2 linked regions of the Homo sapiens genome follow. The protein of the gene in region 2 purifies or fractionates together with the protein of the main gene of each other region. This does not show direct contact. Each region holds a gene or a part of one and is shown on either strand. Other genes may lie near its edges.

Region 1 (5,491 bases), on a different chromosome or scaffold from region 2:
CACACCAGCTTGGGTGACAGTGAGACCTTGTCCCCCAGAAAAAAAAAAAAAAAAAAAAAAAAAAACTTTAAAAAAAAAGCCAAACTGATGCCATGACTCATGGGTGTGAATTCCAACTCTACCATTTACCAACTTTATGACCTTGGACAAGGTATTTTTTGTGTCTCCATTTCCTCATCTGTAAACTGGGAATAATAACCTTCATGGTGTTTTGTCTTTGTTGTCAAGTTTTTATTTTATAATCATAAAATTAACCATTCAATCTAGCTAGATGTAGAAGGGAATAAGGAAAATATGGAACCCAAAGTACTACAGTGAGAGCACAAAGATTATGGGATATTGCAAACACGTAGAGTGGAAGGTTGCTCTCCTGAGCTACAGAAGGAATAGTCTGGTAGTTAAGATAACACAAAATTCAAATTTATTAGAGTTGTCCACAGTTGGCAATGGTGATCTTCTTGCTCATCTTGCCATTCTTGGACCCAAAGTATTCCATGGCTTCCATGACACTCATACCCTCTCTCTCACCTTTTCCCAAGACCACATGCCTACTATCTAAGCCTTCAGTCTTGGCACTACAGATAAAAAATTGGAAACCATTTGTGTTGGGTCCAGCATTTGCCATGGGCAAGATGCTAGGACCTGTATGCTTCAGGATGAAGTTCACATCATCGGATTTTTCCCCACAGATGGTCATGCCACCAGTGCCATTATGGCATGAAGTCACCACCCTGGCATATAAACTCTGGAATAATTCTGTGAAAGCAAGAACTCTTAAACCAAACCCTTTCTCTCCAGTGCTCAGGACACAAAAGTTTTCTGCTGTCTTTGGAACTTTGCCTGCAAACAGCCCAAAGGAGATGCGGAACTCCTACTTGGCAGCTATGTGGGAGAACATGGAGCTGATAATGGCTGATGGCAGGCGCCTCCAGATGGTAGCAGTGTCTGCAAAGCCATCCTATTTTTATAAGGATTAAATAAGTTAAAATTCCCTGGTACATAAAAAGAAAATATAAAAGTACTATTATTCTAGACATTTTTAAGAAATCATTTTTTACGTCTGTCTCTTCAGAGCATCCCTGGTTTTATAAGATATAAACTATGAGAAAATTTGGAAAGGACACAACATATAATCCTTAGTGTTTACATAAAAATTCCTGTTAATACTTTTGTGAAAACTATCTTCCCTTCCCCACAAAGGAATAAAAGAGCATTATTAAAATGTTCTTGTCTCAAAAAAAAAGGTTCCTCAAACTTTTCCTTTATCAAATGTAAATCACAGCTGCTCTGATGAAATGTTTTTTAATTAAGTCTCTATATAAAGAATGTTCTTAAATGTCAAATCTGCACCAAAATTTAATTACCTTAAAACCATCCATATTTTCTAAGTGCACACTTGTTAAGAACGTTTATTCCCATTATCTGCTTCACCATGTAACTAGCAAGGGAATCTTGGGAGTATGTAACACAAATTACTTGCCTTAGAAAAGACACTGTTTATTCCACATGTGTAAAATTCAGTGAATGACTTTCAGAAAAATCAAAAGAAAGTAAATGTAACATCCATACAGTTGTTTAAGCTTTATTTTTAAATGCATGCATGTTTCAAGGAAACAAAAATTTCAAGATACAGAATACAACATATCAGATTAAATAATTCAGAATTATTTTAATGTATACACAAATAACAATATAAAGCACATACATAAGATACATTATATAATTTGAGGTTTCAAAAAGCAGTAATTTGGTTTTAAAATTCTGACACCAATATCTAATGTAACATTCAAGTAAAACATATTTCAAAAGTTAAGACTCCTGAGACTAACACATAACTCTATGACAGCCTGCCTTTACCACGATCTTCAAAATAGTGCTGTTCAATTCTCCTACAGAAAGCAAGGAGGTTGCTATAGTTTTTCACCTTCTCAGAAAGTTCATCATTTGTCAATTGTGTGGTAAGAATGGTGTATAGATGGCCAAATACCAGTGCGTCAAGTTCAGTAGGCCTAAAAGTAGAAATGAGAGTAATGTGAGTAAGTAGCATTTAACTTTTACAATAGAAAACACAGTTGGCCCTCTTCACCCACAGGTCCCATACTCGTAGGTTCAACTAACCTCAGATCCAAAATATTTTAAAAGATTAGAAATAACAATATAGGCCAAGCATGGTGGCTCATGCCTGTAATCCCAGCACTTTGGGAGGCTGAGGTGGGCGGACTGTTTGAACTCAGGAATTCACAACCAGCCTGAACAATGTGGCAAAACCTCATCTCTACAAAAAATACAAAAATTAGCCAGGCATGGTGGTGCTTGGCTATAGTCCTAGCTACACGGGAGGCTGAGGTGGTAGAATGGCTTAAGCCCGGGAGGTGGAGGTTGCAGTGAGCTGAGATCACACTACTGCATATCATTTAGATTGTGTGTATTGGGTACTATAAGTAATCCAAAGATGATTTAAAATATACGGATGTACATAGATTACATGCAAACACTGCACCATTTTTTCTTTCTTTCTCAATACATTAAGTTTACGTAAGCAATTATGCCATTTTATATAAGAGACTTGAACTCTGCAGATTTTAGTATCTGTGGGGGTCCCGGAACAAATGTCCTGTGGATACTTGAAAGACCCCCGTGGATATGTTTTTTAAAATCATTTTATTCATCAACTTAAAAGAAAAAAGCCACGTAAGAAACAAATCCTACCACAACTTGATATAACTTTTCTTGGAGTTTCTGCTATATGGAAAAAAAATATGATTTGCTAGTTGTGTGACTTGCTTTCTTTAGTAACAACATTTAGGTGTGTTAAAATAATATAGATGTAATGATCATATTCATTTAATTCATTACTTTTCTCACTAAATATAGCAGATCTCCAATGTGCCAGAAACCATACCAAATGCTAGACATAAAAACAAGAAAAATACTCTAAGACATGTACATGAAACATAAATTATAAAGTTGTTTTAATAAATACAATTTATTAAGTGTTTTAATAGATGCATAAACAAAATGCTGTCAAAGCACAAAGGATTTCGCTGTGGTGATAGGACCAAAAAAATGATACCCAATCACAAATCAACAACAAGACACAACTTTAATTTTACCACATTTAAAGTAACTTAGATTTCTGAAGGAGACAAAATCATAAGGATGGCTTCAACATAAAAATTTCTAGGAATTTTTTTCTCTGTAATTATATATTACTAACAACAAAATGAAATCTACCCCACTACTAATGATCTATAAATGGGGCATCACCAATTTACATTATATTAAAATAATTACTAATGCACTATTACTAAAACAAGAAAATGTCATCATAATTACGAGCTAATTATTACTGTGTCCCACAGTGATAAAGTTTTTGAGAAAATATGTGCTAGCCTACATAAATGTGAAAATATGTTGCAGTAATCTGGTTTGGCAGAATAAATTTGGGGGTTGGTAAAAATCCAAATTTGAACTCCAATACTATCACTTACTAGCTATGTGGCCTTGAACCCTATTGATAAGTAGTCTCCTAGAGATGCATGGCTTTAAATACCATCTTGATGCCACTGACTCCTAAATATTTATCTCTGGTCCTAATGTCTCCCCTGAGCTCTGGATTCATACATTCAAATGCCTACATAACATCTCCACTTCAATGTGGAGTATCTGTGGAGCAGGATGTGGAGCATCTTGACTAAGATGTGTGGGATACTTTATTTTCTCAATAGCAGTAATTTACAGTATCCCAAACCTGCTTGTCCCCCAAACTTCCCAAAATAAAAGGCACCACTATCCAACCAGCTGTTCAGGCCAAAAATTTAGGGGCTACTCTTGAGTTCTTTCTTTCACCCTCCTATATCCATTAGCAAGTCTGGTGAGACACTACCTCCAAAATATGCCCTGAATGCCACCACTTATTCTTCATTATGATTTCACAGTGTAACCTACCATCATCTGTCACCTAGACCACTGAGATAGCCTCCTAAAGTGTCTTACTGCTTCTACTCATTCTCCATACCATGGTCAGAATGACTAATGTCAGCAGATCATACCAACTCCAAGCACAAAATATTCTAATGGATTTCTGTTCTACTTATACTAAAATGCCAAACTCCTTACACTAAGCACACAGAGCCTTGATAATCTGGCCTCTGCCTGCCTCTTTAGCCTCATATCCTACCATTCATAGCATACAACCCAAACTGGCCTTGTTTCTTGCATTTGAACGTAACAAACTCAAGCCAATTAGGGAACCTTGACTATAACTATTCCTGCTGCCTAAAATACTCTTCCTCTGACTTCACACTGGCTCCTTATTTTTTAGAATAAGGTTTAAATGGCACATCTTAAAGTCTCCTCAGACCACTCAAATTAAAGTGGACATGTAGTCACTCCTTATCATGTGGTCCTTTTTTAATTCTACATTTGATAATTAATACCATATAATTTTTTTTTTGCTTATTGTGCATCTCCTCTACCAGAAAGTCCTGTAGAGAAAGGACCTCACCTACTTGGTTCCTGCTGTAACCCCAATACCTAGAACAATTCCTTGCACAAAGCAGGAATTGTGCAATAAATTTGTGTTGAATGAACCAATAAAAAGGTGACACACTTCTCATACCATATTATAACTGTGTTCACTTAACTGTTTCCCTCACTACACTCCAAGCTCTTCAAAGGCAATGCTGTATATATCTTTATATTCCCAGTTCTTAGCACAGTATCTAAGGAACTGAAGTAGCACTTGCCGAATAAATACATGAATTAAAAAAGAAAGCATCCTAAGATGTGTGGAATATTTAATTTTCTCAATAGTAGTAACTTACATTCTTTGAAAGCCTTCCACTCTTTTGACATTCATGAAGTGTTAATCAAAGTCAAATGTGCAATCTATGGCCATGTTTAAATGGGTAGCCAACAGTATAGTTTTAAAAAAAAAAATCTCAAGGGTCCTTAGACTCAACAGCACCATAATCTTATCATCACAGGAATGAACCAATAATGAATAGATCCCTGCAAAAAACCAAGGATGTAGAGTGGATAAATGGGGAGCTGAGCTGAGGCACTTGGTGAGAATAATACAAACACCAATTCTTCCACATCCTTAAACATATTTCTTAAGAGGTACATCTTATCTTACCAATTTAGAACTTATTTTCCTAATCCTTGTTTAGTGCCAGCTACCCTATACTTCTTGTACTAGAGCCTAAAAAAGGTGCATATATTCTCTGATGCAACTTCCAGTAGTATAGATGGGCACCCTTTATTAATAAATGAAGGCTCTGAAAGAGTTCAACTATCAATGTATGCTCAAATGAGAGTGCTCCAGAAGTACCCCTGAAGTGGTTTGTTGCAAATATATATCCACATAACTCCAGAGGTACTGAATTATATATGGGCATGAGCATATAAAAACTGATCTGATTTTACATAAAGACAGCAACTTTGTGGCAAGTTACTTTAGAACATCAACAGAAGTAGAATTCAACAG
Region 2 (9,407 bases):
AACTGGATCCCTTCCTTACACCTTATACAAAAATTAATTCAAGATGGATTAAAGACTTAAATGTTAGACTTAAAACCATAAAAACCCTAGAATAAAACTTAGGCAATACCATTCAGGACATAGGCATGGGCAAGGACTTCATGACTAAAACACCAAAAGCAATGGCAACAAAAGCCAAAATTGACAAATGGGATCTAATTAAACTAAAGAGCTTCTTCACAGCAAAAGAAACTACCATCAGAGTGAACAGGCAACCTACAGAATGGGAGAAAATTTTTGCAATCTACCCATCTGACAAAGGGTTAATATCCAGAATCTACAAAGAACTTAAACAAATTTACAAGAAAAAAACAACCCCATCAAAAAGTGGGTAAAGGATATGAACAGACACTTCTCAAAAGAAGACATTTATGCAGTCAACAGACACATGAAAAAATGCTCATCATCACTGCAAATCAAAACCACAATGAGATACCATCTCACACCAGTTAGAATGGTGATCATTAAAAAGTCAAGAAAAAACAGATGCTGGAGAGGATGTGGAGAAATAGGAATGCTTTTACACTGTTGGTGGGAGTGTAAATTAGTTCAACCATTCTGGAAGAGAGTGTGGCGATTCCTCAAGGATCTAGAGCTAGAAATACCATTTGACCCAGCCATCCCATTACTGGGTATATACCCAAAGGATTATAAATCATGCTACTATAAACACACATGTACACATATGTTTATTGTGGCACTATTCACAATAGCAAAAACATGGAACCAACCCAAATGTCCATCAATGATAGACTGGATTAAGAAAATGTGGCACATATACACCATGGAATACTATGCAGCCATAAAAAAGGATGAGTTCATGTCCTTTGCAGGGACATGGATGAAGCTGGAAACCATCATTCTGAGCAGACTATCAAAAGGACAGAAAACCAAACACCGTATATCCTCACTCATAGGTGGGAATTGAACAATGAGAACACTTGTACACAGGGTGGGGAACATCATACACAGGGGCCTGTTGTGGGGTGGGGGGCAGGAGGAGGGATAGCATTAGGAGAAATACCTCACGTAAATGATGAGTTAATGGGTGCAGCAAACCAACAATGGCACATGTATACCTATGTAACAAACCTGCATGTTGTGCACATGTACCCTAGAACTTAAAGTATAATTAAAAAAATATATATATATGTGTGTGTATATATATATATATATGTATATATATATATACGTGTATATACATATACGTATATATATACATACATATATATACGTATATATATATATATATATATAAGTTTAGCAAATTTATCACCTAAAAAAAAACATAGTCAGAGTTGGCATACAGGCCATAGTTTGTCAACTTCTGCTTTAGAGGGACATTAATCTTGCAAGACTGTGAGAGATTTCATTCTGCTTTCATCAGATTCTTGAAGAGGTCTATGACACCAAATTCTAAATTTGTGATTCCCAAAATAGCAATTTTCTCCATTAATGTACATGAGATGGTAGAGAACAACCAAACTCATATTCAGAGCCACAACATATAGTTGGACAGTACACCCTACCTGTTCTGTATGGTGATAAGTTATAGCCATGGCTAGGCTCACTAGGTAAGTGACTTGCTCTTTAAGTATGCTCAATGAAAATCTGTTTCTCATCAAAATGGCTAACTGCTCTAGGCAAATAATAATAATGATATATTTTAATATCCACTGATACCCCTTAGTATGTCCCTGGCATTACAGTTAGTGCTTTACATGCAATATCTCACTTAATCCTCACAACCATGTGAGAACTATTATTGTCCCCTTTTTGTTGAATGAGGAGACTGAGGCTTGAGGTGTTTGATAACTTGCCCCAGGTAACAGAACTAGTAAATGCTGGATCTGGGATTTCGATTCAAGTCTTATTCTATAACCTGTGCTCACAATCACTACTGTTTCTCATGGCCAAAAAAAAAAAAATGTTTTATTCTACATATGAAACGTGGAAATGGTGAATCCCAAGGTTATACTGTATAATAAACGCCAAATGATATATTGTTATGTACTGCGTGTTGGTGTCCCCCCAAAATTCACATGTTGAGACCCTATCTCCCCCATTGTGATGGTATTAGGAGATGGAGAGCTTTAGGAAGTGGTTAGAATTAGAGGAAGTGATGAGGGTACAGCCTTTGTGAATGGGATCAGTAGTGCCCTTATGAATCTTGAGAGAGCCTGCTTCCCTCTCTTCTCTGCCATGTGAGAATACAATGAGAAGTAGGCTGTCTACAAGCCAGAAGAGGGTCTTCACCAGAACCTGACCATGTTGGCACCCTGATCTCAGAATTTCAGTCTCTAGAACTGTGAGAAATAAATTTCTGTTGTTTATAAGCCACCCAGTCTATGGTATTTTTTACAGCAGCTCAAACTGACCAAGACATCTATGATAAGAATGAGTAAGTAGCACTGGCATCTCTTTCTCCCTCTGCATTGTCTCCATAGAATGCTTTTCATATACCACATCACCCAAGACAGGCAAATAAAGGGTTCCAGAATCTAGATGTGTGAGGAAAAGACATTAGCTTGGAAAGGTTTTGGTCCCACTGTTAAGCTGTAGTATGTTTCATCTTCATAAAGATACTCTGGAATTAAAAGGCATGTGGAAAAATGACCATACATTATATTCTTGTGAGAATATGGTCACTGGTAGATTATTCAGAGTCTAAAAACTGTATAGCTCCTCTTGATTAGAAAAGAGAGAGGACAGAGGAAAATAGTAAAACTCATATCATGTTTGTTATTCAATGACAGTTTTTATGAAGATTAAGTGAGAGGAGGAGGCTGAAATTAGAGACTAACTTCCAGTTTTAAATTAGATAATCTATAGACAATGGAAAGAACTTAGACTTTGATGTCAAGAAGATCTAGGCCATAAACAGAACTCTGCTACTCACAAGCTATATGATTTGGGGCAACTTATTTTAGCTCCCTGAGTCTCAGTCTCTTCATCATAAAATGGGAATAATTACCGATCCAGCAGAGGTTTTTGTTTTGCTTTGTGGGTAAGGGCTGAATAACATAATATACTTCTAGCTCTCTGCATCACAGTATGTGCTCGATAAAGGGTGCATATTATTATTATTCCCCAACCGCTGAATTAGCCACCTTCCTTTGCAATAAGACAACTTAGCGGGTTTTATAATTCACATTGTAATTATATAGATATCTATATAGGTATCTATATAGATAAACCTATGCAAATCAATATGAATACATTGTCAAAATGGTATTAAACACTTTGTCACCTTCTTTTTGATCACAGTAAAATCACAGCAGTATTTGTTTAGAAAGTATAATTGTCACTGCTTGGTCCCACAAAGTGTTTATTGCCAGTATGGAATACTAGCAATGTTATAAGTATTATAATGGATAATATTTCTAATATTTGATGCTGAAAGTTCTTTTGGTGCCTAAACTTAGTAAAACTAAACTTAATAAAAATAAAAGTCTTAAGATTGACAGGGAGACTGATAGGTAAATAGCACAAAAAATGGAAGCTGACATTTCTTTATGTAGGTGTGACTCATCCCTTTAAAATTACAGAATCTAGAAAGGCCCATTTTCCCCCACCTAATAGCTCAAATTTATAAAGTTATATTAAATGCTTCACCTAATCAACCTGTCAGTGTTACTCTATATACTCACATTAAAAGATCTATATTATGAACTATGTGATAATTTAAAGCAATTGCAGATACTTAAGTACCTCATAACCTAAAAAGAAACAGAAACCACAGATATGAGAAAGACAAAATATTTATGGGGAGAACACATCTTAAGTTCAAACCACTAATGATAATGCTATCAAATTATTTAAGAAAAGAATGAAAACAAAATTGACTTATACCCAACAAACCTGAAGTGGATTCTGATTTGGTCTTTGCTTCAGAGCTGAGTTCTGTTGGCAAGGGCACTGAGTGTTTCAAGACGTGAGTTGTTTTTGCAGGTACTTCTATTTCGGAAGAGGATCCTAGCTGTTTACCAAACAGATTTTTCCTTCATAAGTAAATCATTTTACTATTTCCTTCATCTACTTTCTCATTTTATCCTCGACCTCTGTCCAGTACCCTCATTACAAGCCAACACCCACCCAAACAAAACTCAATGTTGACCGTCTTGCTCCATGTAAACTCTACCTTAGTTTTTTCTTTAGGTTTAGGGAGTGACTCTTCTTTGCTGCTTTTTGTCCACAATGATTTAACTGCTCCAAAAATTTGCTGGCTTGTAGCATATACCTTTTTTGCTGTTACCTAATTAAAACAAAAAGTAAGTCAAATAACATATTTTTAAAAGTTAAAATTAAAAATGTATTTTAGATTTGTCAGGTATTTTATATGAACACTCAAGTCAGAATCAATAAAGATATAAATCTCTAAATCATATAACACAAAGCACCATTTCTAAAATCTTATATGAAAAATTTTTTGTGTCATGCAAAGGTTATAAGAAATGTATAATCTGCATTCACATTGTAACATAAATTTAAAACTATGTCTATTTTTTTAATTTTTTTCAGCTTTAGTGAGATTAGATTGACATATATAAAATTGTATCTATTTAAGGTATATAACACGGTGATTTGATATAAGTGAAAACTGTGTCTATTAACAGGAGTTTGGGGAATATAGTTTGAGATAATAAACTGCTGACTGAGAAAATGAGATTTTTAACATGCTACAAAGTTAATGCTTTTGCTTAAAATTTGATGGTGCTTTCTCCATTCATAAAGAAATAAAAGGCATCAACTAATTCCTCCAAAGAATAATATTCTTTTTTGGTAGAAAGGTAAAATAAACAATGACTGATAAATATACTCAAGCAGAGGCCAGGATGCTGGCTGAATTCCTAAAGTTACCGTTATTTTCATTCATCTCTATTTCTCTTTGAAAATCTACTTCTGATTTCTTCTTTTTCCTATTCTTCTCCAATGCTTTTGTTCATTTTAGTTAAAGTAATTTCAACAGCCATTGATTTTTCAAGTTTTGAAGATGTTTTGAGGTATTTTTCAGGATTATAATTTCTACAAACATAAATTTTTTAAAAATTATGTTTCCATCCTCAAATAGAAATATTTTTATTGTTTTTACTAAGTATATACCTACAGTTGAAAAGTTAAGTAATATACTAATATAAAGAAATTCCTCTTCCTCCCCAAATATAACCTTTGTTAACAGTTATACATATATCCTTCCTCAATTTTTACTCATCTATACATTATATATACACAAATTTTAAAACAAATGTAATATTAATATTTACAGATCTTTCAAAAAAGATGAAGTAGATCTATATGTACTGGCATGAATGGAAGTCCATGATGAACCACTAATTTGAAAAAGTTACAGAATAGATTATACAATACAATCTCAATTATGTTTTCAATTAAATTTTAAAATAAATTACATATGTATTTAGTTTGTTTTCCTTTTCAAATACTTGAGATCACAGTACACATATTATTCTGAGATATGATTTTTTTAAAAGCTTGACAGTATTTCAAAGGCACGGTTCTATATTACTTTATATACCGTAGATCTACTTTTTAAATTTGCTGCTTAGTTTAGCATTCTATAATGTATGCACCACAATTTGTTTAACAAATTCCCTATTGAGGCACGATGATTTAACAAATCCCGTTGGTGAGCATATGGGCTGTTTTCCTTTTTGGGGGTAGGGAGATGGCAAGTATAAGCAATGATGAAATTAGCATCCTTATACATACAACTGGGACCATAACCCTTATAGTATTTCCTCAGGATAAATTCCTAGAGCTGAAATTTCTGCACTGAAGCGTATACACATATTAATTTTTGACAGTATTACCATGTTGCTCTCCAGAAAGTCAGCAATATACTGCAGCAATTTACACTACCACCAAGAGTATATGTCTGTTTTCCTACCCTATTTACCAGCAGTGATATTATAAGTCTTTTAAATCTTTGTCAAATTTAAAGGCTAAAAACCAATATCTAAATGATTTTTCAAATTTGCATTTATTTGTTGATGAAATCAAGTATCTTACATATATTAGGCCATTTATGTTTCTTATTTTGTAGACTGCTTTTTTCATTTTCCCAGAGGGCACATTCATCTTTTGCTCATTGATTTATAGGAGTTCTTTTTTTTGTTTGTTTTTTTTGAGACGGAGTCTCTCTCTGTCACCCAGGCTGGAGTACAGTGGCGTGATCTCAGCTCACTGCAAGCTCCGCCTCCCAGATTCATGCCCATTCTCCTGTCTCAGCTTCCCGAGTAGCTGGGACTACAGGCGCACGCCACCATACCCACGCCACCATGCCCGGCTAATTTTTTGTATTTTTAGTAGAGACGGGGTTTCACCGTGTTAGCCAGGATGGTCTCGATCTCCTGACCTCGTGATCCGTCTGCCTCGGCTTCCCAAAGTGCTGGGATTACAGGCATGAGCCACCACGCCTGGCCAGGAGTTCTTAATACATGAAGGATATTAGTACTTTGTCATATATGTTACAAATAGTTTTCCAAGTTTTTCATGTATCCATTAACTTTGTGTATGGTATATTGTAATCTACAGAAATGTATTAATTTTGATGTAGTCAAATATGTCAACTTTTTCTTTAATGGCTTCTAGATTGTATTTTGCTTAAGAAAGCTGTTCCTATCTCAAGATTAAACAGGTATTCCTCTTATTTCTTCTCATACCTTTTATAGTATTCTAGTTTATGATTAGATCTGTATTCCACCTAGAATTAGTTTTCCCATGATAGTTGGTAAAGGTCTGAGTAATTCTACAAACAGCCAATTATCCCAACATATTTCTTGGAAAAAAAAAATCCATCCTTTCCATTACACACTGATCTGAAATGCCACCTGTACCACGTATCAATCCCCTACCCTCATGTGTACAAAAATATACTCAATATAATTGTTTGGATATTCTCTTTTGTCCTCTTGATCTATTTTATTGTGTATACTATAGTAACCAATACACAGTAGACAGACAACAAATACTAGATGAATGAATGTCACACTCCATTCAAATCCAGAGCTTTTGTAAGAACTGAATTAAATTTCTAGACTTTGAAATACTCGCCGTATTTCAACATTTAGTCTTTCATCGAGAAACAGGATATATGCCCAAAGACATTCAAGATTTTTTGTTAAATATCCTTCACATATAAGTGAGATCAAACAGTATTTGTCTTTCTGTGTCTATCTTATTTCACTGAGTATAATGTCCTCTGGGTTATCCATGCCATTGCAAATGGCAGAATTTCCGTTTTTAATGGTTAAATAGCAGTCTGTTGTAGTATATATGTACCAAATTATCTTTATCCCTTTATCTACTGAGAGACACTTAGGTTGTTTCTAATCTTGACTATTGTGAATAATGCTGCAATGAACATGGAGGTGCATATATCTCTTCAAGATACTGATTTCATTTTTTTTTTTTTTGGACATATACGCAGAATAGAAGCAGAGAGTAGAATGGAGGTTGCCAGGGGATAGCAGTGAGGTAAATGAGATGTTGGTCAAAGGGTACAAACTTTCAGTCATAAGATGAACAAGTTCTGGGTATATAATGTGCTGCATGGGTGGTGATGGATATGTTAATTTGATTGTAATAATCATTACACAATGTATATGTATGTCAAATCATCATGTTGTACACCTTGAATATATTCAATCTTTATTCATCAATTAAATATTGTGAAAATTTAAAAATACCCTTCAGTAAAGTTTGATAGTTTATTTTTCTTTTAAACAGGCGTTAAAACATTATTTGGTAAGTCTATTCCTAGATATTTCATAGCTTTCAAAGACAGACTACTTGCTACTCTTTACATAAGTTAATAATAAAAATATTGTGAGGAAAATTATAAAAAGCGAAGAGTAATTCCATCTTGAAGTCTATTTTCAAAATGATGAGTAACTGGAGTGAGTCTTTTGTTTTTCAAAGGACCTTCTAGACTTATCATTTCTTAAACTTTTTAATATCACAGATACCTTGGAGAAGCTCTTAAAAGCTATAGGCCCTTTCCTTCAGAAAAACACAGATACACTAAAAAGCTCTCACCTGACATTCTTTTAGGAGACTTGACTGATTAATAAAATGTTTTTTTAATTTATTATAAATGATGTTTGTAGAATGTTGAATATTCATCCCTATCAGGTGCTCTCCAATATGCTAAGGTACTATCTTTCACAAGTTGATTAGTATGCTTATTAAGTTCCTTTTTTCCCCAAGTTGCTGCATCAGTTTTACTTATAATTAAACAGTCTAAATGTAACTTAATATGATAAAATATGAGTTTAAAAAGAATTATTGTTTCTAGGAAAATTAAGTTAAATGCTTCGTAAAGACTCAAATGTGAATGGCTAAAAAAATAACTGCTATGAAATTAGAGGTGAGCAAGACAATTATAACAGCTGGGAGAAATAAACATCTAAAAGGATTCTGCACTCAATTTTTTTTAATGTTTTTAACTGTTCATTCTATTTTAAAAGAACCTAATCTGGAAATTGTAGAAGACATACTACAGATATGGCTTACTGTTGGAAAGATGTTATAGATCTTTAACCAGGAGACCAATACTCAAAGAAAAGCCCTACTTCAAAATAGAGAAAAAGGAAAGATTTTTTTTTTTTTTTTTTTTTTTTTTTAGAGATGGCGTCTCACTCTGTCACCCAGGCTGGAGTGCAGTGGTGCAATCTCGGCTCACTGCAATCTCCGCCACCTGGGTTCATGTGATTCTCGTGCCTCAGCCTCCTGAGTAGATGGAATTGCAGGCGCCTGCCACCAGGCCTGGCTAATTTTTGTATTTTTACTAGAGACGGGGTTTCAACACATTGGTCATGCCGAAGAAAGACATTTATGTTTTAATTTCAAGTAAAATTGTGGGTATACATTTTTATATATATTTTTACAACTCGCTGCTTTAACATTTTTGATTAATTGTTAACTACTGGTCCTGATTATGTCAAATAAGAAGGTTTTTCTTGTACATACGTGACTTTTCATAAAGTTTTGGATAGGAGGGTGTGCTATAGACTCTCTAAAGTCCATCATGGATCTCAGGTTAAAAAAAAATCATATATTTGAATTTGTAAAATATTACTTGATATTATTATAGTCAAAAGAAAAGCAAGGATTTCAACTCTAAGAATTAAAGTAACAATTATTATTTACCCTAGAAGAACATTTAAAAATTAATCTCTTATATTAGAAAAATTTTTATTTGAAGTTCAGCAATTATTTTGTTTTTCCTTTTGTAAAGTAAAATTCAGTTTAATACTTTATTTTAAAAAATAAAAATAAGACACATACTATGATCTCATTCTTATCTGCCTATTCATAATCAGTTTTTCTATCTCTGTGTATGCATGTGA

Evidence for each region. The genes of interacting proteins can lie anywhere in the genome.
Region 1: the proteins of APOOL (region 2) and MTX2 purify together in Homo sapiens (affinity purification with mass spectrometry; 2 studies listed by BioGRID and IntAct, with this or other methods). This does not show direct contact.

The regions. Positions count from the first base shown.
Region 1 is NC_000002.12:176,334,011-176,339,501, reverse strand, and holds the end of MTX2 (metaxin-2), read right to left. Parts: intron 2,010-5,491; coding exon 1,838-2,009; 3' UTR 1,477-1,837; downstream 1-1,476. UniProt on the Homo sapiens protein: Involved in transport of proteins into the mitochondrion.
Region 2 is NC_000023.11:85,068,885-85,078,291, reverse strand, and holds part of APOOL (MICOS complex subunit MIC27 precursor), read right to left. Parts: intron 4,295-9,407; coding exon 4,181-4,294; intron 4,019-4,180; coding exon 3,901-4,018; coding exon of another isoform or gene 3,892-3,900; intron 1-3,891. UniProt on the Homo sapiens protein: Component of the MICOS complex, a large protein complex of the mitochondrial inner membrane that plays crucial roles in the maintenance of crista junctions, inner membrane architecture, and formation of contact sites to the outer membrane.